Linked DNA regions of Homo sapiens. The protein of the gene in region 1 purifies or fractionates together with the protein of each later gene. This does not show direct contact. Each region holds a gene or a part of one and is shown on either strand. Other genes may lie near its edges. The genes, in order: NOPCHAP1 and RRP15.

What was found.
Region 2: the proteins of NOPCHAP1 (region 1) and RRP15 fractionate together in Homo sapiens (co-fractionation; one large-scale study listed by BioGRID). This does not show direct contact.

Annotation. Positions count from the first base shown.
Region 1 is NC_000012.12:105,013,569-105,017,397, forward strand, and holds part of NOPCHAP1 (NOP protein chaperone 1), read left to right. Parts: 3' UTR 1-3,829. UniProt on the Homo sapiens protein: Client-loading PAQosome/R2TP complex cofactor that selects NOP58 to promote box C/D small nucleolar ribonucleoprotein (snoRNP) assembly. Acts as a bridge between NOP58 and the R2TP complex via RUVBL1:RUVBL2.
Region 2 is NC_000001.11:218,291,569-218,295,397, forward strand, and holds part of RRP15 (RRP15-like protein), read left to right. Parts: intron 1-3,829.

The DNA.
Region 1 (3,829 bases):
GCCACCCAGCTTTGAGCTTGAAACCCAGGGCCCTGGTGGTGTAGGCACCCGAGGGAATCTCCTGGTCTGCGGGTTGTGAAGACCGTGGGAAAAGCATAGTATCTGGGCCGGAGTGCACCGTTCCTCACGGCACAGTATCTCATGGCTTCCCTTGGCTAGGGGAGGGAGTTCCCTGGCTTCCCTTGGCTTCCCTGGGCTAGGGGAGGGAGTTCCCTAACGCTTTGTGCTTCCCAGGTGAGGCAACACCCCACCCTTCTTCTGCTCCCCATCCATGGGCTGTACCCACTGTCTAACCAGTCCCAATGAGGTGAGCTGGGTACCTCAGTTGGAAATGCAGAAATCGCTTGCCTTCTGCGTTGATCTCGCTGGGAGCTGCAGACCGGAGTTGTTCCTATTTGGCCATCTTGCCAGCCAGCCGAGAGATCACTTTTTACTGTGATAGGCAATTTACTGCAGAGAGGAACTGTTCACACAGAGATGATTAGTGTCACATGGTATCGTGAGTAGATACTTGCAACACGAGCTCATCGCAATAGCAACAGGAGGTGACCACAAAGTTATTACAGTACTAGAGTTAATTTTATGCAGTTATGATTTAATACTGTGTCTTTGCATTTGTTTGTATTTCTTTCAACTGCAAATGGTACTAGGTACCGTCTATAAGTGTTTGTGTGGGTAAGTGCTGATAAATTCTAACTTTTTATAATAGATTTATATATTTTTTATGGTAGAAATGATGAGATAGACTGGTATCTACATATATTTAATGCATTTTTGACGTACCTAACTTTTTAATTTTTTTTAAGCCATGCAGTTCATCTGTGAATTTTTTCAAATTGTCACAAATCTCCAAAAATGTTAAAAATATATTTATTGAAAATAATCCATGTATAAGTGGACCCACACAGTTCAAATCTGTGTTGTTCAAGTGTCACCTGTATTTAGCTATTCTCAAACATACCTATTTTTATTTTAAGAATTCCTTTCTAGTTTGAGTTGGAAAACTGATGCTTGTAGTGTAATCACTGTTGGTGACAGTGCAGTCATACAATGCATGCAGAATTTACTGGTTGGAAAGATCAGTTTTTAGTTGATTTTTTTTTTTTTGTAAAGCAAAACTTCTTATCTCAGCTATTAAAACTGTTCCACACAGTTGCCCACAGCCTGAAACCTATCAAATGTAGAAAATAGGGACATCACAGCAAAATTTGGAGGGCATAGTACAAAGAAAGGCGACAGCTGGTTTTCCCTTCCAAAGGTCAAAATGACCTCAGGCTGGAGTTGCCTTTCTGCCCTATTCTTGGTTTTATTAAGTTTATTTGGGATCTCATCTGCCATGAGCCTGACTTTTGCTCAGGAAAGAGGCCTGAGAATTTAAGGACTATCTGTGAGTGGGCAGAGCTGATGGAACTTTGTCTGCTAATGTTTTCGGGTTTTCTTTGAATTCTGTTCTTTCCAATTCTTCACATTGGCCTGAGTCTTCTTGTGATTGCTGTGAAGATAATTATCCAGGTCCTTTCTGATCTTTCTTATTGGAAATTGGAACCAGCTCTCCTTGACTGTGACTCACTCGCTAAATGTGTAAAGAAATGAGCAGATCTGAAACAAGATTTTTTCAGCTGGAAAGAGTACACCAGAACTGTACACAGCCGTGATGAGTTATTGGCATAGGTACTTATTTAAAGATTTTCTTCCACTGGATGCTATGCTACCTTGTGTGAACAGTTGCATTTGTCTGTTTCACTACTTAGCATAGTGTGTGGTGCACAGTAGGCATGGAATAATGATAATAAATGGATTAAATGGATGCATGAAGGTATACAGGAGACTTTAAGCTATCATAGACGGTTCCAGGCAGGAGAATATGAAGATGTAATTTCAAGTACAGTTGTTATTGTCAGTTTTGCTTTCCATGGTTTCAGCTACCCATAGTCAATCACAATATAAAAATATTAAATGGAACATTCCAGAAATAATACATAAGTTTTAAGTTGCTGAATAATGTGATGAAATCTTAGGCTGTCCCACTTCGTCTCGCCTGGGATGTGAATTGTCCTTTTGTCCTGCTTATGCACGCTGTATATGTTACCCACCGTTTAGTCACTTAGCAGCCATCTGGATTCTCAGATTGAAAACAGTGTGTATAGGGTTCTGTTCTATCAAATGTTTCAGGCATCCTCTGGGGGGTCTTGGAATGTATCCCCCATGGATAAGACTACTTGTATAATCTGGTAAAATGGATGAATTATTCATAAATAATGTCAGAACCAGCTATTTCAAACAAGATTAGATTCTCTAGCCTCATATCATATGCAAAGATAAATTATATATGGATTAAGGATTTAAATGTAAAAAAAGAAATTATAAGAGTTCCATACCGAAATGCAGGTTTATATTTAGTAAAATAGTCAAGAAAGGTTTTTTTTTTTTTTTTTAAAAAGCATAACATCAAAGCCTAAAATTACAAAGGAAAAGAGTGGAAAATTCATCCCCATAAATATTAAAAACTAGTGTGTTGCAAATAAATTCAAAAGATAAGGGAAATACTGGGGAAAATATCTGAAACATGACAGAGTGTCATTAATATATCATGGGCTTTTACATTTTAGAAAAAAATGACGGATATCTCAGTAGTGAAAAGACTATAGGAAATGAAGAAGTAATTCACAGAAAAAGGGTCAACTCCATTTATCAGAGAAATGCAAATGAAATCAGGATTGCATTCTTCACCTGTCAAATTGGCAGATGCAACAGTAGCTGGTACTTACTGAGCCCTTTCTGTGTTAGCTACTAGTCTAAGAGTTACCACCACTCATACATATGTAAAGGCTAATGGAGTTGTAAATGTAACTTTTGAGGACTTTATTGTATGTATGCGTATTAGTCTGTTCTCACACTGCTAATAAAGACATACCCGAGACTGGGTAATTTATAAAGGAAAGGAGGTTTAATGGACTCACAGTTCCACATGGCTGAGGAGACCTCACAATCATGGTAGAGGGTAAAGGGGTAGAAAGTCATGTCTTACATGGCAGCAGGCAAGAGAGCTTGTGTAGGGGAGCTCCCCTTTATAAAACCATCAGACCTGGTGAGACTTATTCACATGAGAACAGCATAGGAAAGACCCGCCCCGATGATTCAGTTACCTCCCACCAGGTCCCTCCTACAACACGTGAGAATTATGGGAGCTACAATTCAAGATGAGATTTGGGTGGGGACACAGCCAAAACATATCAGTATGTTATGGCCTTATATAAAAGTTGTTTTGTTTGTAAGCAGTTTGCCCTACAGTGTGTGGAAAGTGCATCACTGTTGTGCTTTGGTTGTCCAACTCTTTGCTTACCCTGATGCTTAGGTGTGAGTTGATGGCAGTTTGGCATTTGGAGAGCAGTTGCACTCCTAAAATGAGTGAAATGTTCTCTTCAAACTTGTGGCGTACCGTCTTTCTATGGCTCTGTGACAGTTACAGATCCGAAAATTAGGTGTAATGGCTTTTGAAGCAAAAATCTCATTCTGAATAAATCTCCCATCTGTTCCAATAACATTTTAATTGCGCATCAAATATGGTACTTATTTTTAAAAACTGCCTAGCAGGATAGTTTGTGTTACTCTGCCTGTATCCATGACCGTGATAAGAAATGTAAGAAAAGGCCAGGCATGGTGGCTCACACCTGTAATCCCAGCACTTTGGGAGGCCAAGGTGGGTGGATCACCTGAGGTCAGGAATCCAGACAAGCCTGGCCAGCATGGAGAAACCCTGTCTCTATTAAAAATATAAAAATGAGCCAGATGCGGTGGTGCATATCTGTAATCCCAGCTACTTGGGAGG
Region 2 (3,829 bases), on another chromosome or scaffold:
GTTGCCAGGCTGGAGTACAGTGGTGCTATCTCGGTTCACCACAACCTCCGCCTCCCAGGTTCAAGCAATTCTTCTGCCTCAGCCTTCCGAGTAGCTGGTACTACAGGCACGTGCCACCACGCCCGGCTAATTTTTGTATTTTTAGTAGAGACGGGGTTTCAACATGTTGGCCAGGATAGTCTGGATCTCTTGACCTCATGATACACCCACCTTGGTCTCCCAAAGTGTTGGGATTACAGGCGTGAGCCACCGCGGCTGGCCCCCCACTCCCCACCCCCTTTTTTTTTAAGACAAAGTCTTGGTCTGTTGCCTAGGCTGGAGTGCAGTGGCATAATCAGAGCTCTCTGCAGTCTTAACCTCCCAGGCTCAAGCAGTTCTCCCACTTCAGCCTCCAAAGTAGCTAGGACCACAAGTGCGTGCCATCATGTCCAGCTAATTTTTCATTTTTTGTAAAGATGGGTCTCACTCTGTTGCCCAGGCTGTTCCCAAACTCCTGGGGTCAAGTGATCCTCCTGCCTCGGCCTCCCGAAGTGTTGGGATTACAGGCATGAGCCACTGCACCCAGCCTTCAATTTTTCAAACAACAAACTTTAATGCAAACTCATAGCACCATACATTTTGGGCATACTGTACTGTTAGAGGAAGTGGATAATAATAGTTATATTTAATATACTTTGTTGATTCATTAACATTTGAACTCATGGATGGCCAATAACGTGCCTGAAAAAAGCTTATTCAACACATATTTTCTCTGAGAGGCACATTGCATCCTTGTGCTTAGGGACACTGCACAACCCGTCAGCATTATGCTTGTGGGCCATTTTAAACATTGCTGTAGCCAAGAAAAAGCACAGAAATGGAAAAAATGTGGCACTAAATAGCTGTAGGAAGAACACCAGTTTACAATGAGAAAGTTAAAACAAGGCAGAGTGTCTCCTTCAGCCTCAGCTAGGAGTGTGCATGTAGGGAGACTCCAACCCTTCACTGCTCTAAGCATGTCTGTGAATGACTGCAAAAGTGCCATGAGTATTGATTTGGGGTTACGAATACATTTTACTGAGTTAGTGAATTCTCAAATACAGAATCCACAAATAACAGTGATTGACTGACTGAATCTCCTTGTAAACTGGCAACAGTCTGCATACCCAACCTGTGTGATCTGACCACTGCTTGCCTCTCAGGCTCACATCTTGTCATTCCCTAGACGACTAGGGTCATAGCATTCTGAACTAGTTTCTGGAATACAGTCTGCTCTCTGTCTTTCTAGTCGTGCTTATGGTACTCTATTGGCATACTCTTTTTATTCTTTACTTTCTCTTAACCAGCTTTTCTCTATCCTTTAGGTTTCAACTTAAATGTCTCCTCCACTTTGTCTTTTACAAATTTTCCTATCTCTGCAATATAGATAAATAATAAAGGATCATATATTTTACTTATTATTTTAAAACTTTTTTTTCTTATTTTTTTTTTTTTGAGACAGGGTCTTGGTATGTTGCCCATGCTGGTGTGCAGTGTGGCATGATCATAGCTCACTGTAACCTCCAATTCCCATGCTCAAGCAATCCTCCTGCCTCAGCCTTTTAATAATTGGGACCATAGGTGCACACCACCATGCCTGGTTAAAGAGTCCTTTATTTAATACAGTTAGTAATATAGGTCTGTTGGTTAAAGATGGGACAATTCTTCTTTGGCTTAACTCAGAATTTGCTATTTAATATAAGAAATTGCTGTTTTCCGCTCATGAAATTAAGTATTTCTGTAAAGGTGACCCATGGAGGTGGATTTTCTAGTCAGGTAGTTGTATACATGTGGTCTTGGTTAAACTATTAAGTTATCAAAAACTTTTATATGATAGTACTGAGAAACTATAAAGGCAGAGTCTTCAGACCTATGAGGAATCAGTGTGTAAATTACAGATATATTTAAAGAGTACTGACTTGTTTTATCAGGAAACTGAATCAGGCACTTATCTTTGAATTTTAACTGGATTATAAAAATTGATAGGGATGTGCCCTATATCGACATTTGAAAAACTTCCTTTAGTAAGACGCTACTTGAGTTTCATAGAAAACCCAGATATAACCCATATGTTGTTTGAATTTTATTTTTCTGGCTTTAATTTCTTTTCACATATTGTATAAGAAAAGTAGAAGAGTGTGCTTTCATGAGAACAAAACTCAAAACTCAAGTATTGTTTGTTAGACTGCAGAAGTTTCCTAAGTTCCATGGGGACAGAGACCTTGTTACTGTGAGGACAGCTATATCTCAGTTTGACATAGAGCCTGATTCATGGTGTAGTACTTGATATCCATTTATTCACTGAATAAATTGGAAATTTCTCTTAACATGATTTTTTTAATACTCTTTTCTCATATACTAGATTATCATGGAGGTGAAATTAGCAGTTATATATATCAACTTGAATAATAGCAAAATGACTAAGATTGAATTTTTGGTGAATTGCAGTACTGTCAGTACGATTTGAAATTTGATCATAATAAAATTGAAGGGGATCACGAATTAGAGATATACAGCCGGTGAATGTGGAAAAAACACCACTCAGTGTGCTTTTCTCTATTTTCTCACTCAGCCACTCAACAGCAACAATCATCACAGAAGACTTCTGTGATTAAATGTGTATGGATTCATTCTCACACCCTAAGCAAGTAATCAATTCTGCAGTGGATACCACCTGTTTGCTCTCCAATTCATTTCAACATTATCTACCTGGAGGTAGTGTCAGACCCCACAGACTGAGGGCTCAGCTTCATAAGACTGCCCAAACCCTTCAGATACCAGTCCTAAATCCAGACCTCTGGAACTTCTGACCAACTGACTTAAAATTGGGGTTCCCATAATCTTCCCTTTGGGTTCGATTAATTTTCTAGAGCAACTCACAGAACTCAGGGAGACACTTAAGTTTATGGGTTTATTATAAAGCATATTACAGAGGATACAGATGAACAGATGCATAGGGTGAAGTATAGGGTGAAGGTGTGTGGAGCTTCCATGCCCTCCCTGGGTGTGCCGTCCTGCAGGAACCTCCAGGAGTTCGGCTATCCAGAAGCTCTCTGAACCCTGTTTTTTTTTTAATGTTTTATGGAGACTTCATTACATAAGCATGGTTGATTAAATCATCGAGGTGACTCATTTAACTTTCAGCTTCCCTCCCTTCCCAGAGGTTGGGGAATGGAGCTGAAAGTCCCAAACTTCTATTCCTGTCTTGGTGCATCTGGTGACCAGCCCTGATCCTGAAGCTGCCTTGGGGCTACCAGCCCTCAATCATTAGCATACAAGAAGATACTCCTTTGGAGATTCCAAGGATTTTAGGAGTTGACCAAATAGATATTTCACAGTATCACAGAAGGTAAAGTGCTACAGTCTGCATTTTAAGTAATATATAAATGACAAGTGTTATAGAGGGGAAGGTGATGGCCCTACCTGAGTTATCCCTGAACTACTCAAATTTATTGACTTGATACCTTGTTGGAAGTTTAGATACAATATATACTCGGTTCTTAAGCTTGTAGTCTTAAAACAATAAAAACCCCAAAACAGAAAAACAGTCTTCCTAGTCAGTAAATCACCTCAGGTGAAAAAATAACAGTGGTTGATGATATCAAGTATGATAAAGGGTAAGATGATAGCCCCTACCTCTGAGTTATCCTTGAGCTACTCAGATTTATGGAAGTTAAGATGCAACTCTAACTAGGTTCTTAAGATTGTAGTCTTGGGACAGGGTGCGGGGGAAGCGTCTGTTGTCTGTAAATCAACCCAGGTTAAAAAAAAGAAGCCTTGATTGTTACTCGGGGCTGTGATCTGATTGACT